Regions from separate parts of the Homo sapiens genome. Here regions 1, 3 and 4 are each linked to region 2. The links come from fine-mapping of genetic effects on gene expression. A gene starts in region 2. Each other region holds a variant in brackets. All regions are shown on one strand. Distances are between the middles of the regions.

What was found.
Region 1: its variant is fine-mapped to the expression of CLSTN3 in whole blood (TOPMed, PIP above 0.99).
Region 3: its variant is fine-mapped to the expression of CLSTN3 in whole blood (INTERVAL, PIP above 0.99).
Region 4: its variant is fine-mapped to the expression of CLSTN3 in whole blood (TOPMed, PIP above 0.99).

Annotation. Positions count from the first base shown.
Region 1 is chr12:7,255,144-7,260,500 of GRCh38, forward strand. No RefSeq gene overlaps it. Among named protein-coding and RNA genes, the nearest start is that of ACSM4, 46 kb to the right of the region's middle. RefSeq lists a silencer at 3,967-4,167. The variant T/C (reference allele first, on the strand shown) is at 2,553.
Region 2 is chr12:7,127,527-7,132,883 of GRCh38, forward strand. It overlaps CLSTN3 (calsyntenin 3), which reads left to right and starts at 2,845. Exons shown (of 18, transcript NM_014718.4): 1 at 2,845-3,186. The coding sequence starts at 3,123. RBP5 (retinol binding protein 5) reads right to left here and starts at 1,363. Exons shown (of 4, transcript NM_031491.4): 1 at 1,177-1,363; 2 at 714-892. The coding sequence starts at 1,249. RefSeq lists silencers at 2,602-2,701, 3,792-3,861 and an enhancer at 3,143-3,644.
Region 3 is chr12:7,068,612-7,073,920 of GRCh38, forward strand. It overlaps C1S (complement C1s), which reads left to right. Exons shown (of 12, transcript NM_001734.5): 12 at 1,244-2,421. The coding sequence ends at 2,040. Among named protein-coding and RNA genes, the nearest start is that of C1S, 11 kb to the left of the region's middle. The variant G/A (reference allele first, on the strand shown) is at 2,783.
Region 4 is chr12:7,087,576-7,092,906 of GRCh38, forward strand. It overlaps C1R (complement C1r), which reads right to left and starts at 4,870. Exons shown (of 11, transcript NM_001733.7): 1 at 4,812-4,870; 2 at 3,877-4,105; 3 at 2,481-2,673; 4 at 2,012-2,158; 5 at 1,718-1,914; 6 at 1,264-1,411; 7 at 1,035-1,156. The coding sequence starts at 4,813. RefSeq lists an enhancer at 4,918-5,212. The variant G/A (reference allele first, on the strand shown) is at 2,128.

The sequences.
Region 1 (5,357 bases), 130 kb after region 2:
ATCATACTGAATGGGCAAAAACTGGAAGCATTCCCTTTGAAAACTGGCAGAAGACAGGGATGCCCTCTCTCACCACTCCTATTCAACGTAGTGTTGGAAGTTCTGGCCAGGGCAATTAGGCAGGAGAAGGAAATAAAGGGTATTCAATTAGGAAAAGAGGAAGTCAAATTGTTCCTGTTTGCAGACGACATGATTATATATCTAGAAAACCCCACTGTCTCAGCCCAAAATCTCCTTAAGCTGATAAGCAACTTCAGCAAAGTCTCAGGATACAAAATCAATGTATAAAAATCACAAGCATTCTTATACACCAATAACAGACAAACAGAGAGCCAAATCATGAGTGAACTCCCATTCACAATTGCTTCAAAGAGAATAAAATACCTAGGAATCCAACTTACAAGGGATGTGAAGGACCTCTTCAGGGAGAACTACAAACCACTGCTCAGTGTAATAAAAGAGGATACAAACAAATGGAAGAACATTCCATGCTCATGGGTAGGAAGAATCAATATTGTGAAAATGGCCATACTGCCCAAGGTAATTTATAGATTCAATGCCATCCTCCTCAAGCTACCAATGACTTTCTTCACAGAATTGGAAAAAAATACTTTAAAGTTCATATGGAACCAAAAAAGAGCCCACATCGCCAAGTCAATCCTAAGCCAAAAGAACAAAGCTGGAGGCATCACGCTACCTGACTTCAAACTATACTACAAGGCTACGGTAACCAAAACAGCATGGTACTGGTACCAAAACAGAGATATACATCAATGGAATAGAACAGAGCCCTCAGAAATAACGCTGCATATCTACAACCATCTGATCTTTGACAAACCTGAGAAAAACAAGCAATGGGGAAAGGATTCCCTATTTAATAAATGGTGCTGGAAAAACTGGCTAGCCATATGTAGAAAGCTGAAACTGGATCCCTTCCTTACACCTTATACAAAAATTAATTCAAGATGGATTAAAGACTTAAACGTTAGACCTAAACCCATAAAAACTCTAAAAGAAAACCTAGGCATTACCATTCAGGACATAGGTATGGGCAAGGACTTCATGTCTAAAACACCAAAAGCAATGGCAACTAAAGACAAAATTGACAAATGGGATCTAATTAAATTAAACAGCTTCTGCACAGCAAAAGAAACTACCATCAGAGTGAACATGCAACCTACAAAATGGGAGAAAATTTTCGCAACCTACTCATCTGACAAAGGGCCAATATCCAGAATCTAGAATGAACTCAAACAAATTTACAAGAAAAAAAAAACCCATCAAAAAGTGGGCAAAGGATATGAACAGACACTTCTCAAAAGAGGATATTTATGCAGCCAAAAGACACATGAAAAAATGCTCATCATCACTGGCCATCAGAGAATGCAAATCAAAACCACAATGAGATACCATCTCACACCAGTTAGAATGGCAATCATTAAAAAGTCAGGAAGCAACAGGTGCTGGAGAGAATGTGGAGAAATAGGAACACTTTTACACTGTTGGTGGGACTGTAAACTAGTTCAGCCATTGTGGAAGTCAGTGTGGCGATTCCTCAGGGATCTAGAACTAGAAATACCATTTGACCCAGCCATCCCATTACTGGGTATATTCCCAAAGGACTATAAATCATGCTGCTATAAAGACACATGCACACGTAAGTTTATTGCGGCACTATTCACAATAGCAAAGACTTGCAACCAACCCAAATGTCCAACAACGATAGACTGGATTAAGAAAATGTGGCACATATACACCATGGAATACTATGCAGCCATAAAAAATGATAAGTTCATGTCCTTTGTAGGGACATGGATGAAATTGGAAATCATCATTCTCCGTAAACTATAGCAAGAACAAAAAACCAAACACCGCATATTCTCACTTATAGGTGGGAATTGAACAATGAGATCACATGGACACAGGATGGGGAATATCACACTCTGGGGACTGTGGTGGGGTTGGGGGAACGGGGAGGGATAGCATTGGGAGATATACCTAATGCTAGATGACGAGTTAGTGGGTGCAGCGCACCAGCATGGCACATGTATACGTATGTAACTAACCTGCACCATGTGCACATGTACCCTGAAACTTAAAGTATAATTAAAAAAAAGAAAGAAAAAGGAATATAATCAAGGCAATGGTTAAAAAAAAACCATAGAATCTTTAAAATTCCGAGTCTACCATGATGCTCAGGGTGGGTTGGGGGATGAAAGGGTGGAGGGAGAAAAATTCCTTTTTGAGGAAAACTCTGGTTAGTAAAAGTAGAAAGAATAACAGAATTTGGAAATCAACATTTTGCAATCTCCAATGATTGATTTAGATAAGGATCATAACTGGATGCTATGTCCTCTAGGTGAAAGTTACACTTGCAAAGTGTGGCTGACACCATCTGAACCAAGTGAACAAATTTAACATCATCAATAGTGGGACAATCTGACATCATGTGCCTAGTAAGATGATGCAGTGCGTTATACATGGATTATTTATGAAATGTCCTGCTAGAAGTGTTTATCCTGAATCTAATCGGGCTCCAGCTTAATTTAAAG[T/C]CTGTGAAAGTTTTAAAATATATTACCCATTTCCCTCCAGGAAGATGACCTCAATTTATACTCTCAGCAGCGTAGTAGACTGCCAGTTTCCCTGAACAAGTTAATTGAGACCACAAGGACACAAAAATACACAGGCAGTATGTGAGATATTCATCAAGACAACAACTGATCTGGATTCTTCTCAAGACAATGTCATGGGTAAAAAAAGCAAGAGAATTCTTCTACATTACAGGAGACGTGCTTGAATCCTGGACTTTTAAAAAAGCTATAAAAGACATTTTGGGACCATTGAGGAATTTTTAGTGTGGAATGGTTATAAATGATATTTAGGAATTATGAATGTCTTCGATGGTCATAATATTCTCCTATTATGGCTATATGGGAGAATGTCCTCATGTTTTAAAGATGAATGCTGAAGAATTTAAAAAAGAAAATAATGTCTGCAACTTACTTTCAAATGATTTAGAAAAATCATGTAAATAGGGCAACAAGTGAAAATACCCCAAATTCTTCTGACTCTGAAGGTCCACAAAACATACTTGAAAAACCACTGGGCTAGGCAATGAACAATCTGGATTCCCCAAATGAGTACTTATGATGGTGACTGGGTGGAGGTCCTGGAAACCTGAAATCTATCCATTTGTGTATGTCTCTCCCAGTGCCTCAACACCTGCAGTTCCTTAAGGCAGCTTCATGAATGAACTTGTTCCCACTGGTTCTTTTTCTGACATGTGAAAGCTTTTATAATCTCAGATCCTGTCTCTTTATCTCATAATAAAGAAAGCTCCCCTCAGCATCTATGTCAACACAGACAAAGGGTTCAATCTGCCAAAATGCCTCAGCAAAGTCTGGCTCTTGACTACAACTGGGGTGTGGGATGAGGTGGCTTTTTCCTCTGATTTCACAACCTCTAAAGGAAATGGATTTTTATTGTTTCTTTTTCTTCTGTAAGCTAAAGGAACTAGGGCTCTAGAGTGGCTTCTACCACTAAGTTCCATCCTTCAACACCAACTGACTCAAGAAAAAACAGTGCAATAAGAGACCACAAACAACTTCCTGAAACACGAAAATAAAATGCATATATTTTCACCTGAATATTTAGAACAATAGGACTTAGCATTAGAAGACTGGGTTCAAATCCTGATTCTGCTTTTAACAAGTAGTGGACGGGTTATGGACAACTAATATCCTAAGCCTCAGTTATTTCACCTGAAAATTGGGGTGCTAATGATAATAAATGCTATGGAAATAAGATGAATAATAGCCATGGAAATAAGATGAGTTAATGGCTATGAACGTGCTTTGTAATATGAAAATGCTATAAAATGATCCTAGCTAGTCTAGTTAACTGAATTAATAAATGAATAATCTGAAGGCCAACAAGGACATGACTTGATTGACATTACAAAGCAAATTTATTTATCTGTTCAATACATTCTCTCCTGGGTTAGGACTTACACTAAAATATGGAGGTTAACTAGACTGTCCTCTTACTACATGTAGATGTATTTGTAGAGATCCATATAGATACATAAGAAATACAGCTGTCTCGCCAAATTTACTGAGTCATCCCAGCACCATACTAAGAGTTTGGGTATATTACTTCACTGAAGCTTATGACTGTCCTATGAGAAAAGTCCTATTATTATCCCCATCATATGAATAAGAACAGTGAGGATACAAAAGGAGAGATTATAAATGCCTGAAAAATATCAGTGAGAATGTAGGAGAAGAAATGGACTTTAGATTGAGCAGGTTGAATACACAGAACATAGAAAACCAATGGGATATAAGGATTAAGGAAAAAAGAGATGACAAGAAACCATGTTGCTATAATTGAGCAAATATTAATGCTATACAGAGGGAAGAACAGGTTGGTGGGGAAAATTTCCATTCATTTAACCAATATTAACTGAGCACTTAATATGTGTCTGACAATATTATAAGCTCTAGGGATATAGCAATAAAAAATATTGGTAAGAGTTCCTATTTTCCTGAACTTATATTCTGGGAACAGGGGAATATGTTCAAGAATTGTTATGTTCTTGATTTTTTGAGGCGCTCATTGAACATTTGGGTGAAGATGTCCAGGAAATACCAGGAAATAGTTGGAGAAATGGGTTTAATTCTCAAAAGAGTTGTTTAAATGAGAGATGAACTTGGGAAATCTTCAGTGTATAAATGGTGATTGAATTTATGAACATGAATGAGGTCACTCAGGCACAGAATATAGTTCCAGAAGAACAGCAGGCTAAAGGTGAAGCCCTTGCAATGCCAATATTTAAGAAGAAGAGTCCAAGAAAGAGATGAAGCAGGAACAGTTAGACAGGTAAAAGGAATGGCAGAAGAGAATGATATGATAAAAACCAAGGAAAGAGAAAGTTATAAGAAGGAATGGTTAGTAGTTTCAAATGCTGTTAAGAGATCAATATGTATAATGAACAACTGAATGTGGCACCCAGAGGGTCCCTATGATTATGGCAAAGGCAGCTTCAGGAGAGAAGTTGGGGCAGGAGGCCAATGTAGTATGTGGAGGGGTGTCTAGAAGAAAAGTCTGTAAAAGCCTCAATTAAAGTGAACTTTTCTGTTGAGAACTTAACCTGCCAGCATGGGCAACATAGCGATACATCATCTTTACAAAAAATAAAAAATTAGCCAGGCATGGTGACACGCACCTGTGTTCCAGCTACTCTGGAGGCCAAGGCAGTAGGATTGTTTGAGCTCCGGAGTTTAATGCTAAAGTGAGCTGTGATCGGGCTACTGCACTCCAGCCTAGGTGACAGAGAAAGACCCTATCTCAAACAA
Region 2 (5,357 bases):
TGTATCATTTTGTATTGTTATTTTTTATTTTTATTTTTCCCAAATATTTTTCCATTTGCAGTTTGCTGAAGCTGTGGATGCAGAACCCATGAATATGGAGGGCCAACTGTATTTTGTAGGCAGTTGAAAACATTGCCCTGGAGCTCAGGAGATGGCTCTGGCTGGAGAATTCATGCCAAGGGCAGCCTATAGATGGAAGCAGAAGGCATGGGTGTAGATGATTTAGCCTATGGATAGTGGGCAGACAAAAGGGAGAAGACATTAAGAACAAAACTCTGCGGAGAAAACTCCAGTTTAAAGGATTAATAGGAGGACTAGGATCTGCAAAGGAGGCTAAGAAGGAATATGTAAGAAGTAGAAAGAAATGCAGGAGAGTGAAGTTATTGATGCTAAAGTAAAAGGGACTCTGGGTGACCAACAGTGTCACAGGCTGGAGGGTGGGCAAATGTTTGCTCTTCGGTCTGGGTTGGCCTGTTCTTTGCCCTTTGGGCTGGTGATAAGAGGGGGCAGGGAAGAAGTGGGAGAGAGACAGGGAGCACCAGGACCTGTTAGTTCTGGAGACTGGTATCCTGGGGACTGCATTCCCTGCTGTGGTGACCATTCCCCTCCTCCCCGCTGCTCTGGCTGGGGAAGGTCACTTTGTTTTGCCCCATGTTGTTAGGAGTCTCCTGTGATGCCTCCTTCCGGCCACCGCCCAGCCAGGGGAAATGTACCTGGCATTTTCGTCCGTCCACGCTCCTGAGGTCCTCCTCAAACTCCACTCCCACATCAAACTGCACAGTGTAGTTTCGGAAGGTGCTGAGCGTCCTCACCGTCATGTGGTTGCCCTGGTGTTCGATCTCCTTGTCCGGCTTCAGCAGCAGCGCGATCTTCCGCACAGCCAAGCTGATGTCTGTGGGGGCTGCCTGTTAGTAGGGGTGCTGCTAGCCAGCCAGGAGCTCCTCTGCCTGCAGCAGCCCCTCAGGGCTGTGAGTTTCCCTTCTTTGGGTCTGGGACTGTGGATTCACCCCCTCCTACCAATGCCTGGTTAGAAATGGATCCCAGGTCTGGTGCCAGCCGCCTGAGCCTTTCCACAGTGTCCAACCCCGGGCATTCCCTCTTCTCCATGGGACCAAGAAGCAGGAAGGAAGAGGGGAGAAAGGGAGTGACAGGGGTCTGGGAGGGCGAGGCCATTACTTAGGGCTTGCAGGTAGTCCTCCATGTTCTTCTGCGAGACAAAGCGGTAGTAGCCAGTGAGGTTGGGAGGCATTGTGTGGATGAAGGTTTCAGGAGAATGCAGGAGACAGGGTGAGGAAGGAGGGGGTGTTGTCTGGCAGGTGAGGCTGAGAGATTCCAGCCAGCTCCACACACAGAGACAGGATGTGTAATGGCCGGGTTACCAGGGCTTTTTATAAGGCTGGGGCCCTGTTGCAATAAGAGTCCCTACCAGACTTCTTCCCTCCCCGCATGGTGAGTTTGGGGGTGGTGTCTCCAGCCTGAAGGAGGGGCAGGGATTTGGCAAAGTTGCGCCTGACCTTGGCTTTTCCTGAGGAAGGAACCTGGAGCAGGATCCTTCCTGAGGAAGGAACCTGGAGCAGGATCTGGGGCTGTCAGTCATCCAAAACTCAGCCATCCAAAGGTCAGTGTTGGCCTCCACCTCATTTCTGGCAGGCTTGGGAACCGTCCCAGGGCCTGAGGGGCAGTCTTTCCTGGGAGACACCTGAGGCTGGTCTGGCTGTGTGAGGTGGAGATGAGTTCCAACAATATCCTGAGATCCTGGGACTGAGTGATGTTGGAAGATGTGAGGGGAGGGGGTGAGGATGGCCAGCTGCCACCATGAAGAGCACCCTGTAGGCCTGGCTCTCAGAGCTCCCTCAGGTAGTGTGCTCAACTGGGACCCCAAAGTGGCATTCCAGACTCTTGGTCCTAAAGAGCCATTAGGAGGGAGGTGGAGCCCGAGGGGTGCTGAGTTCAAAGTCCGGAACAGACAGCCTGAGAGGAGTTTGTTGGCTATTCTGGAGAATTTTATTCTTTTTGGCTTGGGACCCAGGGGGTTTTCTCTCCCTCTGAGTCATCGATGAGACCGTAACCCCCAGTCCCCAGCCCTAGGACAGCCCATGCTTTCCAGATGTATTTCTGTGAAGGTGGGGTGGAGGCGCCTAAATAATATTGTGCCCCGCCCCCAGCTGCCCAATTCTCTCTCGAACCTGCCATCGTCCCGGGCTTCAGAATCCACTGGGCTTGGTTCATCATGGTTTAAGGTGAAATTCGGGGCGAAGGAGGCAGGACAGGTAGGCAGGAGGAGGCGGCCGGTCCCGACAGGTGCGTGCGCGAGGGGTGCACGACGTCCTGCCCCTCCTTGGGTCCCAGAGCCTCGATACCGCCCTGCGGACCGCCCTGTGGCTTCCTCGCAGCCCTGGGCTACAAATGCCAGGATTTCTCAGGCTCAGACTGAGGGTTTTACTTCACCCTTCCCAGAGGGCACGCAGCACGGATCTGTGGATGGAAGGGGCTGTGGAAACAGGTTATGGCAGAGTTGGGGGGCGGGGTGACGCGGTGCCACCCCTCCTGGCCGCCCTCAGGTCCCGCTGACGTCTCTCTTCCCCACCCCCTGGCTTCTGGCTTCTTTCTCCCCACGTCCCTCTTCTTTCCCACCCCCTCCGTGGCTCTCCAGCTTCCTCCCCAGCCCCCGCAGTTCCTCGGCTCCCCCAAAATTGCAGCCAGGGGAAGGAGCCTTGAAACTCTCCAGCCCCGACGCCCCAGTCTCATTGGCTCCCTCCCCCGCTGCAGCACCTGGTCCCCCCCCCTCCCAGTCACCTGATTGGCCGGCGGCCCCATCAATCGTTGCCCGGCTGTGCTGACGTCATCCTGCAGTAGCGGGGTTGGGGTGGGAGTGAGAGAGTGAGGACGCTGGGCTGGGGGAAACGGGAAGCCGCTGCAAGTCCACCGCCTCAGCTACCCAGATTGGGATCTGCCCAGGCCCGCTTTATGGACTAGTGTGGGCGGCAGGCTCCTTTCCGTCCCTGCCCTGCTGTACCCCGCTCCTTGGAGACCCCCTGTATCCCTCCCGCAAGGTGGAATCCGCAGGCTGGAGGCTCCCAGGGGAGGCAAACGCCTGGCCCTGCCCTGCCCCACGCCGCACCATGACCCTCCTGCTGCTGCCCCTTCTGCTGGCCTCTCTGCTCGCGTCCTGCTCCTGTAACAAAGGTGAGTGAGGTGGGGGTGGGGGTACCGAAAGAGGGGCGTCGGGCAGCGCCGTGCGGGGTGGGGGTGGGAAGGAGGTGTCGAGGCTCCCTGGCACCTGACAGGTGTCTGGCCCTCTTCTGATCACCCTCCTTCCCATCCGTTCTCAGACCTGCTCCGTCTCCTCTCTTTCTCTTCCCCCAGCTACATCTTCCTTTCTGGTCCATCTCTACCCATGCGTTTCTCTTGCTGGTCATCTTGCTCCCATTTGGTCTCCATTCCCGTCCTGGGGTCTCTATTCTCCCCTTCCCCTAATTTCTACACGCTGGTGGCTACCTCGGGTCTGGGAAGGACTGCCCCCGAGCCGGTGATAGGCCTCTCCCCGCGGCTCTCCCTTTCACTGGCGCATGCTAAGGGTGTGTGGCAGATCCATCTGCTTCGCCTCCATCCCATCCTGGGGAGAAAGTATTTGCTGCAGTTCAGCAATTCGGAGCACGTATGTTTTTTGCGTGTGCCTCTGCATTCAGACCCTTTTGCCTGCATCAGCTGGGCTGTGGGTTACCAGAGCTGCCCTCTCTGGCAGACAGCGGATACATTCAGCTGGGCGGGGCTGTCGGACAGACGGAGAGGGAGGACGGGAGGGAGGGCTTGCGGGCAGAGGGCTCAGGTAGGTGGAAACGGATGGAGACTGGCAGGAAAGGGCAGAAGTGGGTGTGTGGGGGGCGCTAAATGAGTATGAGAGGGAAAGCTGAGAAGGAGAAGACCGGAGATGAGGCGTGGGAGGGGGTAAGGAGGGGATGGAAAAGGGTAAAGGTGGAGGCAGAAAAAAGAGGGAGGAATGAGGAAAATCAGGAAAAGAGTGAGTCAAGGAGGAGCCCGGGAGCCTAGGAGTGAAAGGGAGCAAACGCAGAGACCGCAGGGGGCCAGGAGGAGAGGAGACAGAGGCTCAGAGACCTGGGAAGACAAGCAGGGTGGGAGGGGGAGCTGTGCAGAGGGCGCCCAGCCCTGCCCTTCCACCGCTCTCTCTTCCTTGCCTGCATCTCTGACCTCAGCCTCGCCTCCTAGCCTCCTGCCACTTCCTGTACCGCCTCCTGTGCACCATCTTGTGGCTTTCTCCTCAGCATTCAGGAAGGGGTTATGGTGGTCATCAGTAAGAAAGCCTTCCCATGCCAAAGGCTTGCTGGTGTGTGGTTGGAGGAAAGAATGGAAATCAGGGTTTCTTGCTCACCGTGAGATACTGGGGATGAGGTTCCTTTTGGTGACTCAGTTTCCCTCTGCCTCATGATTGTGCTTTGGGAGCCTGGGTGTTGGCATGATGATGGGATTAGAGCAAGCGTGGAGGCTGGGGTGGGGGGTGATGTGGAAGGGGAGGAAATATGCTTCCCCACAGCCCCTCACCAGGCTGAATCTGGTAGAAGATGGGGAGATTTGGAGTCTGATGAGTCCCGCATCCATTCTGAATTGGCTGGTGGTTGAAGGGAAGAGGGATGGGGTAGATAAGAACTGGGATTGAGTTCTGTATAAAAAGTGGGTTTCAGGGAATGTGGTTTGATGGTCTTGTGGAGGACATAGAAATGTGTCGGTTTCGAATGTGTTCTCTTGGGTGTGGGGGTGGGAAGCAGGGACGGGATTTGTCATGTTTCTAGGCCAGCCCGATAATCCCTTAGGATGACGGCTCTGCTGGGTCCAGTTGCTCAGCATTGATTCCTCTGCTCCATTCCTGCCCCTCTCTGCCCCCTCCCTCTGTCCTATATATCTTCACTTCTCTCCTTTCTCCCCATCCTGTGTTCTGGGAGAGTGGCCTCAAGTTGGGGCTTGGCTGGGAGAAGTGCAGAGTGAAGGGATCAGGACTGAAATGAGTTGGGAGGAGGATAAGCAATCAGGATCTCAGGAAACTTCTAGATCTTTTTCTAGTTTCAATTCTGCCCTTAATCTATCCCTTCCCTTTCCCAGGGCCTTCTCACAGCCCACCACTGCTCCCTGAAGTTCCCTGTCTCCATTCTCTAGCACGTGAAATCGCTAAAGAACATTCTCCACTTCCTGACCATGGTTCCCATGGAGATAGTGATCCCCTCCTCTTCACCCCCAGGGCAGGTTGTTTCCATGGGAACTGTCTACCCTGCTATAGGAGAAGGCTATGACCTCCCGCAGACCCTCTGACTCCTTTAGTAGCTGATTTCTTGTCCTCAACCACC
Region 3 (5,309 bases), 59 kb before region 2:
GGGAAAGGACTGAACAGTGACCTGCCAGAGTCCAGCTCAGTGAGGTGGCAGTATCACTGTGCCGTGGGCTGCCAGGGCCGTGGGGAACCTCCTCAGCCGCACTGAAGCCAGGCCAACTGGAAGGAAATAGAAACGTCAGCCAGCGACAGTTGGTGTCTGGTAATGTAGCTGCAGTGAGAAGATACAGAACTGCTAAAAACAGGGCCTGAAAGCTGAGAGTGTGTGAGTAATCAACACTCAGAAACAAGTCTAGCTAAATAGCCTAGTTATTATATTAAAAGTTTATAGGGCAGCAAGATATAGAGGAATTCAAAGAATGAGGAAGATAAGAGTTGGGTAGCAGAAGGCTGAGGCAAATCCAATAGGATAATAACCATCCTGGGTGGTACTGAAAGCTGAAGACTGAGCTGATTTGTTGCATTTATTATCTCATTCGTGTCCGTATAACAGCCCTGTGAGCTAGGTGTCATTGGTCTTATCTGACCAATGTCAAATGTGAATGGGTGGGGTGCAAGTTCACAGAGTTAGCAAGTGGCAAAGGCAGGCTTTGAGCCCAGGTCTGTCTAAGTTCACAGCCCATTGTGCTCAACTTGGAGTCCCTCCAGGCTGTCTAGTAAGGGATTTAAGTAAGCAGCTTCACTTGAATTCAGTTATTAGTATAACTGAATGGTAATGGCACCAGTCACTGGGAGTGAGAGGTCAGGGCCAAAGAAGGGACCCCTCTCTACTTCCTAGGCTGACCTGTGGTTTACTAGGAGGGACTCAGGTGCAACTAGGACTCCAGTAAAGAAGGTGATTAAAGTTTGATCTGGGCATCTGAAGAAGGCAGAAATCTTTCCTCCTCCACCATCTGTGTGAGAAAAGGGTTTCCAGCACTGGCTCTTGATTGGGCACCGGCCTCATGTGCCGAGTTGGGAGGTGCAAAGGGGACCCCTGCCTCCAGGGGGGCTGTGGGTCGCACTGTGGATAGTGTGAGGCATTAGTGCATCTGGACTCAGTGATTCACACACTGCCTCCGTTTAACTGAGCTCTCCCATGAGCCAGCTTATGACATCGGCAAAGCGGGATGTTTAGGTAAGGCCAGAGTGGGTCAGGTATTGAGATTGTTGACCAAATAGGGTTGACTATTTTGTACTAGAGAATCCTGCAACCTAGCAGGTAACATTATGTGAGTGGTTGGAGGATTTGCAGGAAGCCAGCATCATTTCTTCCTCCTTCCCTGTGTTGTTTTATTCCTTCCTAGTCTGTGGAGTCCCCAGAGAACCCTTTGAAGAAAAACAGAGGATAATTGGAGGATCCGATGCAGATATTAAAAACTTCCCCTGGCAAGTCTTCTTTGACAACCCATGGGCTGGTGGAGCGCTCATTAATGAGTACTGGGTGCTGACGGCTGCTCATGTTGTGGAGGGAAACAGGGAGCCAACAATGTATGTTGGGTCCACCTCAGTGCAGACCTCACGGCTGGCAAAATCCAAGATGCTCACTCCTGAGCATGTGTTTATTCATCCGGGATGGAAGCTGCTGGAAGTCCCAGAAGGACGAACCAATTTTGATAATGACATTGCACTGGTGCGGCTGAAAGACCCAGTGAAAATGGGACCCACCGTCTCTCCCATCTGCCTACCAGGCACCTCTTCCGACTACAACCTCATGGATGGGGACCTGGGACTGATCTCAGGCTGGGGCCGAACAGAGAAGAGAGATCGTGCTGTTCGCCTCAAGGCGGCAAGGTTACCTGTAGCTCCTTTAAGAAAATGCAAAGAAGTGAAAGTGGAGAAACCCACAGCAGATGCAGAGGCCTATGTTTTCACTCCTAACATGATCTGTGCTGGAGGAGAGAAGGGCATGGATAGCTGTAAAGGGGACAGTGGTGGGGCCTTTGCTGTACAGGATCCCAATGACAAGACCAAATTCTACGCAGCTGGCCTGGTGTCCTGGGGGCCCCAGTGTGGGACCTATGGGCTCTACACACGGGTAAAGAACTATGTTGACTGGATAATGAAGACTATGCAGGAAAATAGCACCCCCCGTGAGGACTAATCCAGATACATCCCACCAGCCTCTCCAAGGGTGGTGACCAATGCATTACCTTCTGTTCCTTATGATATTCTCATTATTTCATCATGACTGAAAGAAGACACGAGCGAATGATTTAAATAGAACTTGATTGTTGAGACGCCTTGCTAGAGGTAGAGTTTGATCATAGAATTGTGCTGGTCATACATTTGTGGTCTGACTCCTTGGGGTCCTTTCCCCGGAGTACCTATTGTAGATAACACTATGGGTGGGGCACTCCTTTCTTGCACTATTCCACAGGGATACCTTAATTCTTTGTTTCCTCTTTACCTGTTCAAAATTCCATTTACTTGATCATTCTCAGTATCCACTGTCTATGTACAATAAAGGATGTTTATAAGCAAATTTTGTGTGACTTACCTCATTCCACACCAAACCCTCAGAATTATAGAAGGGGAATGGGATGAGAAGGCTGTTATGTCACTGAAATTGGGCATCCAGCAACTAATATTTAATTTAATTGTCACGAAAACAGGGAATTCAGCTTTTCTTCTCTCTTCCAAATGAGATTTACTGAATATTGTGGGTTAGTATGAAGATCGCCAGTGTAAGGCATCACATTCTGCTTTTGAAACTCATTAATATTTACCTGGCCAAAAAAAAAAAAAAAAAAAAAAGAAGAAAAGAAAAATAAGAAAAAAAAGAAGCTCATTAAATGTCATGTGGTGCGTGGCTCACACCTGTGATCCCAACACTTTGGGAGGCA[G/A]GGGTGGGAGGATTGCTTGAGCCCAGGGATTCAAGACCAGTGTGAGCAACATAGGGAGACCCTGTCTCTACAAAAATAAAAAATAAAAATTAGCTAGGCATGATGGTGCGTGCCTTAGTCCCAGCTACTCAGGAGGCTGAGTTGGGAGGATCGCTTGAGCCCAGGAGGTCAAGGTTGCAGTGATCATGCCACTGTACTCCAGCCTGGGCAACCAGAGTGAGACATTATCTGGAACAAAGCAAAATAAAAAAACCCCACCTCATTCAGAAATCCATGTACAATAGTTTGAGTTGGCTGTTTAAGATCTTCTTTAAGTAGAAATTGTTTCAATATGTGAACGGAAAGTTAATTTTCCTCTAATACTCATTGTATCATGCAATATTATGACAACAAAAAAGAAAAACTAAAGAAATTGAGCATGCTCTTGTCTGCTTTCCTGGTGGTTTTAATCAATTTGTGACAATGTTTTCATTAGACTGAACTCTGTACCAAGATGACATAGCAGAAAATCTCGGTAAGGATGGACCCCAAAACTCTCCCTTCTATTTTCTAGGGGAAGGAAAAGAAAAGATTCCTCTTCCAAAAGAATGATTAGTGATGAGAAATGACTACAGAATAGAGACTTAGCATTTTAAAAACTGAGGACAGGACAACTATCTTAGGACAGCGGTTGCCCTAACAGGGCGTCTTAGGAAAGCGGAGGTCTGAGAGGAAGAGCTGAGGGGGAATCTGACCTATTTGATGTGACACGTGGCTTTCAGGAGGGCAGTTTTTACTAGAAGCCAAAAAAGGTTGGTTTGGGCCCATCAAGAATGGACTTTGATATTCCATAGACCAAGAGGGCTAAATTCAACAGTTGACCTTAGACCGCAGGGTAAACGTGATGAGGTAACCAGAGGAACTCTAATTGAAGGGCCTGAAGAATTGAAGGGAATTACAACAGGGAGTCCCTGGGAGGATTATATGGTCAACCAAGCAGCATAAAGTCACTGTGTCACTCCTGAACTGTATGCCTCATAGCCACCTCCTCACCCTTCCTGTCATTGCAGGAGCAATGGAGTTGACAGTGTGCCCTGGGTGAGAGTGTTTCCGTGAGAGGAGGATTCTTCTAGAGATAAAAAGGCATTGGAGGAATATTAAGATTTAGAAACATGGTCTGTGAAAGGGATATTGTTCTTCTTTTTTTATACTTGGGGCAATAGCAAAAAATTAACCTGGAATCTGACAAGTAACAGAAAAAGGAAGTTCATCCCTCTCGGAGAATCACCAGTCTATTTGGGTTCTGCCCTTGCTGATGGGCTGAGGTATTGGTGAAGAATTTCCCTCTTTGCTGCCACCTTGTACGGCATGACGGGAATGGGCTTTGCATCGTTGACTGTGCTGCAAGGTCATTTCTCTGGGTGAATGGCAGGGAGAAGACCTAAATGAATCATGATCAGAGACTTCAGAGCTGGGAAGAGCTTGTCATCAGGTCCTAGAGGGGCTAGAAAGTCATTCATTGTGTTTAAAGGGTATCCATCGTAGTACCTTGCAAGTTACTTGGGAACATATGTCCGCTTCATCTGAAACTCAGGAAAAGAGTTAGCTTTTTGAAGAAGGTGAATTGTCACTTTTCTTTGGTCAGAAGAAAATGGACTGGTGGGTCAGCAACTCATGCCAGGGAGGAAAGACAATGTCCGGTGGTCAAGAGGGCTTGAACCTACTTGAAACTGGACCAGCCCAGAAGGGGCTAGAAGGGATCCTGGGACTCTAAAGTTTCCTTTACAGTGACTGCTAGAATCAGAAACATATTCAGTGGAAATGTGACTTTTTTCCTGCATATTGGTTATTATTTTAAAAATTGAAAATATGATGTGAGGCGTGGTGACTCACACCTGTAATCCCAGCACTTTGGGAGGCCAGGGAGGATGGATCACATGAGGTCAGGAGTTTGAGAGCAGCCTGACCAACACAGTGAAACCTTGTCTCTACTAAAAATACAAAAATTAGCCAGGTGTGGTGGCAGGTGCTTGTAATCCCAGCTACTCGGGAGGCTGAGGCAGGAGAATCGCTTGAACCTGGTATTGCAGTGAGCCGAGATGGCACCACTGCATTCCAGCCTGGGCAGCAGAGTGAGATTCCGTCTCACACACACACACACACACACACACACACACACACACACACACACGGACACAACACAGCTTTATTTAATCTTGATCAGATCCACAAACTCTGCCATGGTTTTTAAAATAATGATTTAACAAAACCCTTTTTCTTTTGACATATTCACAAGAAGTTGCAAAGTTAGTACAGAGAGGCGCTATTTCCCCTAATGGCTACATCTTAGGTAACTACAGTACAATATCTAAACCAGGAAACTCATGTTGGTACAATGTGCAAGGGCAGTTTTGTGTTATTTTACTACATTGGAGACTCATGTGAGCACCTCTGCAGTCAAGATACGAAACAATTCCATCACTACCAAGATTTCCCTCTTGCTACGTTTTGTACTCACATCCTTTTTTATTTTCTCTTACAATCATAA
Region 4 (5,331 bases), 40 kb before region 2:
AGGGTTGTAATAGGAGCAAAGAGGTTGGTAGTCTCCATTCTTCTGGACCCAGGACACCCACCCAATCCTCCTGATGGAGCTGGAAGCACCTTGGAGTAAAGAACAATGCATCAGGTGAACTCGACTTGATGCAACATTCAAATGTGAGCTCCACAAAGGCTGTGTGACTATGTGGGTTTCTTTTTACTGAACCTCCCACATCTAGGACAGTGCCTGACAGTAGACACTTAAAGTGTGCATTAAATGAATTAACTGTGACTTAAGGACATATCCTAGGTCTCTTCTTTGATTCTGATTAAGTGTTCCATGTGGACCTGTTGAACAACGATGGGATGTCCAGTCTTGGGTCTCTGTCCAGAGACAGAGATTTTTAGTTTACCAGCTTTTGTGAGATTGATCAATGGATAAAACCATATTCCCTCCTGAATCTGCAGAGCCGAGGACAGGACGGTGGGCGCAGGGGGAGACCACCAACATGTGTAAAAGAGCCCCGGAGCAGGAGGCAGGAGATTGGCGTCCTAGTCCCTGCCGTACACAATCGCTACGTGATGTTGACGAGTCACTACATCTCCACCCTGCCTTTTCAGTTCCTTCAGCTCTCTTGAGTTATTGGACTAGGGCAATAGTTCTTAAACTTGGCTGTGCATTAGAATCACCTGGGTAGCTTTAAATAGTCTTGATGTTCAGGCTCTACTCTAGATCAATGGAATCAGAGTCTCTGTTGGGGGCCCTCATCTTCAGTATTTATTTGCTTATTTTTATTTTTCAGAGACAGAGTCTTGCTATATTGCTCAGGCTGGAGTGCAGTGGCTATTCACAGGGGCCTTGAATGAATGGGCTCAAGCAATCTTCCAGGATTTTAAACTCTCTGTTTTAAGTGTGCAGCAAGTTTGAGAGCTGGTGGACCAGGAGACTCTTCCAGCTGAAACGTCTACGACTCCAGCTGGGGTGAGACTAAATCCTCTGTGAACCCACCACCTGAATTCCTCCTGGGGTGCTGGGCCGGCTCTCTCCCCTCAGCCCTGGGCTCTTACCTCTATGAGCTGGTAGCCTTGCTTGCAGGTAGCAATGAAGTAGTCACGGAACTGGTACTGAGGCTGCAGGTTCTGGATGATGGTGAACTCGTCTAGGGTCTTGGGCTGGGGGCACTTGATGACTGTTGGGGAGACCAGGGGGCATATTTATTTCAGAGCCACTTGTCCTTCCTTCTTCCCCCCTTTTCCCCATTGCTGGCCATCGAGGGAGGCCTGCAGGGAGCCTTACTCTCGGTGGTGTAGCGCAGCTTCCAGCCCCGGCTGTCCCCCGACTCATCTGTGAAGAACAGCAGATCCACAGCATTGCTGCTGGTGTCGAGGTCGGGGGGCCTTTGCTTCCCACAGAACTCGCCAATGTTCTTCCCGTTGGCATAGATCTAGTAGGGGAGGAGGGTTTTTTTTTTTCAGCTTGGACGTTTTTACACAGGGCCAACTGGGTAGTAGCCTGGTGGCCAGGGTGGTGGTGGTGGTGATGAAATCCTGCCTTATGTGTGTTTTCAGGGGAAGGTGAAAAGGGATCCCCATGACCCAATTCTAGTTGTGTGGGAACTTACCCAGCCCATGGGTGATGTTGGCCGTTCCTGCCCCAGCTGGCCAGGGGATCCAGGAGGAAGTTGGGACAAGAGGAGCCAAGTGCAGACAGAAGGGGAGGAAGGGGTCTTTCAGGGGTAGGACGGCTGTACCTGTAGCTGGTCATAGGGGCAGTGTACTTGCTGGTGGTCATCAATATCAAAAGGCTCCAGGAACTTGAGGTGCAGGGTGAGGCCCCGCTCCACCCGGATGCTGTAGTTGCAGCGCAGGTCAGGGGGGTAGGACCGAGGGTACTCCAGGCTGGAGATGTAGCCTGATGCCTCCGTGTACAGCTCGCTGCTGCACTCAGCTGTGAGAGCAGAGCCACAGGGCATTACGGGGGACTCCAGCTGGCCCAGCAAGCCCTGGCTCAACCCCTTCCCCTCTGCTACACCACTCTGGCTCACCCTGGCAGGAATGCCTGTCTTCCTGAAGCTCATAGCCTGGACGGCAGGAACAGAAGTAGCCTCCAACGTAGTTGTGACACAGGTGCTGGCACTGGGGCTGGGGATCCTCCTCCCCT[G/A]ATTTGCTCCGGGAAGCACATTCATCAAGGTCTGGAAGGCATTCAGGAAGGAGGGTTAAGCTTCTGCTGGGAGACCTGAGTAGTGGCTCTGATCTTAGGGAGGTCACTCACCAGAGACCTAAAGACAAAGGCATCTTTAGGCCACCTGGACCTCCAGGCCTCTCCAATGCTCTCTGGGGACTGCTCCATGGGGACAGAGCCCAGGTTGACAGGCCTCGTTAGGAAAAGCTCTCTCGAGGGGAGGAACAAGGAAAGCCAGGCTTTCGGCTTCTTTGCATTCAAGATTCCCTTTCTTGGCCCCCCATTCAATATGGCTGAGGTCAGAGAAAAGGGATCCCTGGGGGGCTACTCACCCACAGCTTGGTAGTAGGCCAGGAAGCCCTTGTAGAACATGATGGTCCCATTCTCCTCGTTGGAGAAGTCTGTGTGGAAGGTCAGCAGCATCTTGTTCCCTTGGGACATAAATTCCTTCTTTCCCGGGGGGTTGCCCAGTGGAGAACCCAGTTGCCCACAGAACCTCCCCAGGCTTTTCTTATCAGCAGAGATCTGGTGGAAGAAGGACAGGGGGTAGGAAGAAGATCTGTTGCGGAGTGGCGCACGTGGTGGCTCAGTGATGGTCCTCCTTGTCTCGCCCAGAGTGCATCATGCACCACAATGGCTCTGGCTGGTCACTACCTGCTGGGCTCAGCTGCTGCAAACTTCCCCATGTGACTTTCAGCTGTTCCCTGAGTCTCCCACTGACTCACTCTTTGCGTGTTGTCCTGGACTGGGTACCTCACCCTTTCCCTGTTTTCTGCTCCTCTGGCAGGTTTCAGGTCCTTCTCCATCCCCACCACCTCCTATGGCCTGTTCCCCTGGGGTCCTGGTTGTCTGTACCCAGCCTTTACCTGCCCCTCATTCCCAGAGCTCAGACAGCTCCGCTTTATTTTCTGTCTTCAGATTCCACCTCAGCCTAATCAAACCATTCACACCTCGAGTGCCTCCTGATGCCCTCGGCGGAACATGAGCCCTGAAGCCCACCCATCTCAGTGTCAGCAGGCACTGCCTCGTCCCTCTTCCTTCCTCCTCACAGCCTCCTCAACCTCTCCTTGACTCTGCCAGCAAACGCCCTCCCCCAACACTGCACACTCGCCAAGTCTTCTGAGCCGGTAAGACGTGCCATTGTCATGTAATTCACGCATAATCTCCAGGGGTCTCCTGGGAATGGTAGTTGTTGGACCTTCGCAGGCTCTGCTTGAGCCCTGAATCTCATTTTTACTGGATAGAGAAAGACAGGCCTGGGAAGGTACCCTTGGTTGCCACAGAGGTGAGGGTTCTGAGCACACTGTCCTTGCTGAAGGCTATTCCTGTGCTGCCAGAGCCCACATTTCTCCTCCTCATGTCCCTGTGTTCCTGTTGAAGCAGGCAGCCATGTCAATCATTTCCTTGGAGACAGGGAAGCTGAGGCACAGTGGTTTCCCAAAGACTCTCAGCTAGACAGCAGATGGGGAAGGTTTTCCTGACTCAGTGGATGTTGAATTTCCTGAGTGGGTCCTGTCCCCTTCCTTCTCTGTGCTTCTCCCCTCAGTGCTCACCGAGGGCCTCTACACCAGTGAGCGCCCATCCAGGGCATCCCCGGGCTCTCAGAGAGGCCGTTGGCCATCAGCTCTTGTGGGGCTGGGCTGTGTCTGGGGGTGTGCATGCCATACAGATCCCAGATCCCAGAGGGCCCAGTTTTGTCTCCCCTCTGCCCGCCCATCCTGCCCCTACCTTGACATAATCATAGAAGCAGCCTTCAGAAGGCTCCAGGTCAAACTGCTGGAAGACGAGCTTCACCCTGTATCCCGTGGGGACTGTGATCACAGTGGTTGTTTCAAAGTTGTTGGGGTAAGGCTTGGGGAACAGAGGGGAAGTCACCTCCCCAAATAACTTCTGAGGGATGGGAATGGAGCCTCCTGCCCTGCAGAACAGGGCCGGCACCAGGAGGTACAAGAGCCACCTGCCAAAACAAAAGAGAGTATCTGGAGCTGGAGGGGTTCAGCACTCTTGCCATGTGGGCAGTGGCTGTGGCAGGGGATGAGACGGCCATACCACTGGGCATTCTCCTCTCTGCCCACCCTGAACCTCACAGACATGTTCTCAGCAGGGGTGCGTGGGTGGGGAGGATGGCCTGTGCAGCTGCTGCATCGGGTCACTCTCCAGGGCAGTGTCCAGTCCAGAGGCCACCACACTCCCCTCACACTCCCTTTCCAGCCTCCTCCCCTGCCCGGACGCGTCCCTCCCCTCCCCTTCCAGGAATAGGACTGGCTTGGGACCAGTTAATGGAGGGTGAGGGTTTCCACCCGTGGGTCTCTGAAAGGGCTCCCACAGGTTCAGCAAGAGCGTCTGGGAGAAACCATCTGTGGAGTGGGGGACACAGGCACAGAGTGTCCCGTCCTGGGCAAGGGGTCCCCTCCTCTCGCTGCTCCCTGCCAAGAGCCCAGAGGGAAGAAAGGACCATGGCATGAGCATCTATGTATGAAGTCTCCTCTGATCCCTAGGAGGAGGGATGGGGCGTGTGTTGTGTGTGTCCACGCGTGTGCACAGTGGAACTGATGAGGTGTGTGAAGAGAGAAGGGTGTTCCTGTCTCCCTGAATTGCCTCCCATGCCCTGGCTTCTCCCCTGGCTTCTCCCTCCCACCTGGTTGCCCATCACCCTTACTCACATTTCTCAAGGCCCGTGTTGAATCCTGGGCTCTCCCGACAGCGTCTTCGTGCACTGTGTGCAGAGGGAGCCCGCGTCATGCACAGCAGGGAGGGGAGGGTTTTCTGTGGAGTGGAGGGGGGACCATTCCCGGAGGAATGTTGGAGGGAATGAACTATTTGCATAAACAAAAGATCTGAGTTTCCACTTTAATTTAGTTTTGGTTTTGAAATCCCTGTTTGTGGTGCCACCTGCTGGTCGGTGAGGGAAAGGGCTAAGGAGACGGGAGTCTGGCTTTTTAGGGCCCGGGGAGCCTTGGGTTGGAGGCCCAGATGTCTCAGTCTCTAAATCTGATCAGCTTCTCCCTTCTTCCAAGACTTTCCTGGGGGCTGCTGCTGTGTTTACAAGGTTCCTACCAAAGCAGTGGGAGACCACAGGTGGTGGTGAATTCTCTTTTCTGGGCTGTCCTTTCCCATTGACCCTGTTCTTCCTGCCCTCATTCAGCCCACAGCCCTGGTCCAAGAATGGCCCGGGTTTCAATG